2 separate regions of the Homo sapiens genome follow, and region 2 is linked to region 1. The links come from fine-mapping of genetic effects on gene expression. A gene starts in region 1. The other region holds a variant in brackets. All regions are shown on one strand. Distances are between the middles of the regions.

Region 1 (2,911 bases):
AGAAAATCCTCTTGTGCAACTGGTAGTGGAGGAGAAATGCCACAACAGTGACACCACCTTGTCTCTCAAGGACATTGAGCAGTGTGGGGTAGAAATGAGGATGGGAAGGGTCCAGGTGGGGGTGGTGTGCAAGGCTGACCCAGGGGTCCCCAGTCCCAGACCCTACCTCTTGCACTCTGACCCGCCTAGGGAAGCGTGGCTGAGGAGGTAGGGAGAAAGAAAGGTCATGCTTTCAGCCTGGACTTCAGGACGTGGCCTGAGGACAGGTCAGAAGAGAATGGTATCCGTCACCATCTTACAGTTTTAAAATTCTTTGTATGGCGTCAATGTTCTCACTTACCGAGAAAGTACAGTCTCTGGAGTTAGAGACAGGTTCAAGTCATAGGTCTCCACTTACCAGTGGTGTAACCCTGGCAAGTCACTTTCCTTGGGTGAGATCCCATTTCTCCATCAGCAGAATATGGCCTGTAAAATCGTTGGAAAGATAAAAATAACATACGTAAAGTACATGGAAAATAATAAGCACTCAAATGGTAGCTATAGTTATTTATAACCAAGAAAACAGGGGGAGTGGATTTCTCCAGGTTGGACAGCTGATAATTGGTGGAACCAAAATTCCAAACTACTCCCCAGAAGCTTCAGTTCCTTATCCCAAGGCCCCTCTGCTCCCCGGAAACTAAGTCTCATACTTCTGTAGCCAGGTGCGACCCTCCAAGGCAAATCTCTGCCCACCGACTCACAGAGAGGGAACCCCCACCAAGAACCCGCTGGAAGCCTGGCGCCACACAGCTGCACTATCTGGAACCTCGCGCGACTGCAGCCCTGGGGGGCGCGCCCGGAACCGAAATGGCTCAAGAGACTTGAGGACCGGCGCGTCTCCTTTCTCCGGCCCCAGTCCCCAACTCCCGCCACAGCGCAGAGGGGGCAGTGCGGTGGGAGGGGGGGAGTTGTGGGGCTGGGGCTCCGGCCTGGCCGGTGAAGCCCCAGGACCCGTCCGCTTGGGGTTAAGGCAAGGGGTGCGGCACGAGGAGCGCAGGGAGCCCCGAGTCCCAGGCGCAGACCCAGCTGCGGACCCGCCGTACAGCCCTGGTGTTGCAAGCGTGGACCGTGGGCGTAAGGCCCCGGCGGGAGGCACTCGGCCCGGCCGCGGCCGGGTCTGCAGGGTCCTGGCGCAGCGGATCCCGGCGCGCCCTGGCCCGCGGCCCGCAGGGTTCAGACGGGGCCGAGACAGCCAAGCCCGGTTCGCTCGCGCCAGGCGCTGGAGCCAAGGCTGACGGGCGGTTCTGAATCATGTTTGGAGGAGCGGCGCGGCCCCCAGGGCTCCGCTGAGACGCGCTGCAGGGCTGTCCGGGCCCTCCCTCGGCGACGCGGCCAGCAGCCCGCGCCGCGTCCTCAGCGGCGGCAAAAACTAGGAGTCCCGGGGCTCTGCCGGGCGCCGGCACTGGAGGGCAAGAGATGCTGGCTTCCCCCGGGGCTCATCACCCCGGGGTTCCACAGCACTTACGTGGGATGGGGACCCCGGAGTAGACCACGGACGGAAAGGAACGGTGGTTTCATTCTCTGCAAAAGAAATCCTCGCGCGCACACGGGTGCCCCGGGCCAGGCAGACCTCCAGCAGAGGCGCCCAGGTGGGGCGTGCAGAGCTTCTGAAAGTGGGCACCTACTTTAGGAGGCTGGCAAGCACAGAGAGCCCAGAATCACCTGTGCCGAGCCCTCAAGGGGGCCTTCTCACAGCCCTGATGTGCCCCCTTACTGCGATTAAGGCTGTTTGCGAGTCCTAAAGAGCTTGCGTTATGCAGGGCACTTTCAACCAACCATTCCTCTATGTACAGCAACCTGTGAAGCTGGCAGGACCAGTACCTTTATTCGTTTTACAAGTGAGAAAGCAAAGGGGTGGGAAAGCCCTAGGGTTCTGTGCCCGACTGCCTAGTCAGGCCCTGCCAACCAAAGATTGAAGTCCGTTCTTTCTCTCTCCTGCCAGGAGGCGAAGAAGTGTCCACCCTGTCTATTGAGAGGCCTCTACTTTAAGAATTAAGCCAGGCAGTCGCTGCTGTGTGGAGGGGTGTTGACAGCAAGTGACAAGGAAGCAAGTCTTTATCGCAGGAAAAATTACTTAAGTGGACTCCTTAGCAGCCTCCTTTCCATTTGGAATGAAGATTAGCACCCCTAGCCCTAGAGCTGTGATTCTCAAAGTGTGGTGCCCAGACTAGCAGCAGAAGCATCACCTGGGAACTAGTAAGAAATGCATCTTAACTGCCCCCTCCTAGGCCTCCTGGATCAGAAGCTTTGAGGTAGTGCCAGCCCAGCAATTTATTTTTTTTGCTTTTCATACATATATATATCTCCACAATGGATGAAAGAGAACAATCATCAAGGATGTAGGTACCAGACACAGGGCAGAAGGTAGCTAGAAAAGTATGCCTGAAGGAAGTTAAGGACCCTAGCCTCATTCCTACCTCGTTTCAATAGGTGGACCTAGCATAAATAGGTTACTTTTCCATTGTTCTAGCTTCCTCTGCCCCATCTACAAACATGGCACAGCTGGCTTGCCTTGCAAGGCCTCAGCTGAAGGACCCCATGTACACACAGGCCAGTACAGCAGTATTAGGATCTAGAAGAATCTCATCCCCATATATGGTCTCACTCCAAGTCTATGGCCGAGTACCTTCATTGTTGTGTGCAAGATGGTGTCATCCCTTGAAAATATGGCCGCTTCAGCATAAAATAGTTAAATCTTTATAATGGTCGATTATCTCATCCTACCCCCTTTTACATGCAGCTGAAAAACGGCAGGCTAGGGACATAGAACATTGTGGACTTTATACTGTTAGAATCGCTGCCCATCAAATGATCACTAGCTAATGGTCACTAAATTTACAAATTAAGGAAATTATCTATAGAATACTGCAAA
Region 2 (2,911 bases), 9.4 kb before region 1:
GCTATGCATTGTGTAAATATAACATAAATCAAAACTATGACCGCTCTTTCAGATGAAGAAACATGCATCATGAGGATAAGTCATTTGCTTCATACAGTCATACATGGAGTTAAGGCTTAGAGGGTGTCATAGGCTGCAATTGTGCTGCCTGTCCGGAACTGAGCTCCCTACTTCTTCCAGTAAAAGATTTCTGTGGGGAATCCATTGCCAGTGGTCTGGATGGCATGGCCACTGCCCCTCTTCAGGGATGGGCACAAGACCCTAGCCTGGCCAATCAGAATATCTCATGCCCTTGGTCACAGTGATTGGGTTGGGGTAGTCATGTGACCCAAACCCAGCTAATCAGATCTTCCTATAGGACTTTTCTGCCAAAGCTAGTGGGGAAGGAGCTTTACTCTTCCTGGGGTTGGTTGCTAACTGGTAGGATGTGAGCCTTAGGCTACTACTCCACCATGCCTAAAGCCAGACCTACGCTCTGGACTTTCCACTTAGATTACCCAAAATATTCCCTTCGTGCTTGGTAATAGGAGGCTACAATTATTTACTTTATAGCTTCATTAATATAGGCTATAATTAGCATCTCCTACCCATCCTCAAACTTCATCTTGCAAATTCAAGGTGTTTATCAAGGCAGGCCTGGGAGCTGGGGTGGTCTCCTGCATCTCAACAGACGCTGGATTATACAGCTTTGTAGGACCCTCCCAGTTTCCAGATGCTTCCCTTGTATGAAAACCCCCTTTCCTATTATTATCCCTGTGTATGCTGACAGGTGTGTTTGTAAAGTTTCTCCTACCCCCCGCCCCCCACCTCCTGCAAAGACTTCTGTCTCTATCAGTAATTGTAAACTCCTGAGGGTAGGGCAAGCAACCATTCCTAGGTCGTCTTTGTCTCCATCAGTTCCTGGTCCAAAGCTCTCAAGTCTCTGATGTGGCTTCTGGTAGTTTGAGGGTATCGGAGTGTTGATGTGTACATGAATGTGTAATTGAAGAGATGGGGGATTGAAGAGGAAAGAACTGCCAAAAAGCATAAACGCTGTGCCAGAGACAGAGAGAGAGAGAGAGAGAAAATAAAGATCTGAGCACAGAGGCCTCCTTGAGTTTGCAGCATCTGGGAGGCTCTGCTCACTAAGTTCAGCTGGCTTTATGTCGTCATTTATTCAGGCCCCACCTTCTACCAAGAGAGAACTGAAGGAATCCACAACTATGGCTACTGAGATACAGACAAGGATGACATAATGTTTACTTTCTTAATTGTGTGTCTTGCCTTCCCCAGGAAAATTTGGCAGGCAG[G/T]CGTGGGGGTTGTTGGTTTTGTTTTTTATTTTTTGTTTTAAGAGACAGTGTCTCGCTGTGTGGCTCAGGCTGGACTCGAACTCCCAGGCTCAAGCCACCCTCCAGCTTCAGCCTCCCAAATAGCAGGGATTACAGATGCCTGCCACCAGGCCTGGCCTCCCAGGAGAATGCACCTGCTGCTGCTGTCCCATCTGCACACTCACACCATGGCTGGCCCACAGAGTGACATTTCCCCACCACAGCACAGGCTTTGGCAGCTTAGAAGCAGACAAGGGCAAAAGACTGAATAGTGTCTTCCCAAGATTGGAAACAAGGCTCAAATGTCTACCTTTTTAAAAAATATATTTAATATACAACTGAGGTTCTACCCAGTGCAACAAGGCAAGAACAAGAAGTGAAAAGCATAAGTTTTGGAAACGAAGAAGTAATGTCGTGTATATTCACAGACATTGTGATTTGTGTACATAGAAAATTCTAAGAAATCTAGAAAAATACAACTAATGCATGAATTTAGCAAGTATACAGGATACAAAACCAATATGTAAAAATCAGTTGTATTTGTATATACTCACAAAAAACAATTGGCAACTGAAATCTTAGAAACATTTTTTATTTTAAATATTTTAACAAAACATTTAAACATTTTATGTAAATCATTTATATAAATCTTGACAACCCCTGACCCAGTTACTGTGGTCCTGGGCATGAGGTATTCTGATTGGCCAGGCCAGGGTCTTGTGCACATCCCTGAAGAGAGGCAGTGGCCATGTCATCCAGACCACTGGCAATGGATTCCCCACAGAAATGAGAGTTTTTTTTTAACCAAAGGCCGTATGCACCCTGGGTGTGGGCCTGACCCATACATCCAACATACCTGTGTATCTTAGTTTCTAGGGCTACCATGATATAGCACCATGAACTGAATATGAGATCACAGAAATTTATTCTCTTACACTTCTGGAGCTAGAAGTCCAAAACCAAGGTGTTGCAGAGCCACGCTCCCTCCAAAGCCTATAGGGGAAGGATCCTTGTTTCTTCCAGCTTCTGGGAGCCCCAGGAGTTCCTTCCCTTGTGGCCACATAACTCCAATCTCTGCCTCCATTCCCAATGTAGCCATCTTCCTAGGTCATCTTTGTCTCCATCAGTTCCTGGTCCAAAGTTCTCAAGTCTCTGACGTGGCTTCTGGTAGTTTGAGGGTATCGGAGTGTTTATGTGTATATGAATGTGTAATTGGAGAGATGGGGGAATGAAGAGGAAAGAACTGCCAAAAAGCATAAACGCTGTACCAGAGACAGAGAGAGAGAGAGAGAGAGAGAGAATAAAGATATGAGCACAGAGGCCTCCTTGAGTTTGCAGCATCTGGGAGGCTCTGCTCAGTAAGTTCAGCTGTGTCTCTGTGTCCAAATTCCCCTCTTCTTTCGAGGACACCAGTCACATTGAATTAGGGCTCTCCCACCCTATCCCAGGATGACTTACTTTTTTTTTTCATTGTTGCCATTACCTTTATTTATTTATTTTTTTTTTTATTATCTTAACCAGTTTACATCTGCAAAGACCCTATTTCCAAATAATGTAGATGGCAGATGAGACTTGAGCATATATTTTGTGGGGGGACATAGTCT

Alleles and levels. Alleles are on the strand shown, and positions count from the first base shown. SD is a standard deviation of normalised expression in the study named.
For the expression in ovary of the gene that starts at base 1,589 in region 1, G is the low allele of the variant in region 2 and T is the other (moderate effect, 0.65 SD a copy in GTEx).

Evidence for each region. PIP is the estimated chance that this variant, and not a neighbour inherited with it, causes the effect.
Region 2: its variant is the best candidate, but not a certain one, in a credible set for the expression of LINC02767 in ovary (GTEx, PIP 0.53).

Annotation. Positions count from the first base shown.
Region 1 is chr1:207,957,669-207,960,579 of GRCh38, reverse strand. It overlaps LINC02767 (long intergenic non-protein coding RNA 2767), which reads right to left and starts at 1,589. Exons shown (of 3, transcript NR_167983.1): 1 at 1,505-1,589; 2 at 341-465. RefSeq lists enhancers at 1,117-1,616, 1,617-2,118.
Region 2 is chr1:207,967,115-207,970,025 of GRCh38, reverse strand. LINC02767 (long intergenic non-protein coding RNA 2767) reads right to left here. Exons shown (of 3, transcript NR_167983.1): 3 at 1,884-2,569. Among named protein-coding and RNA genes, the nearest start is that of LINC02767, 9.6 kb to the right of the region's middle. The variant G/T (reference allele first, on the strand shown) is at 1,290.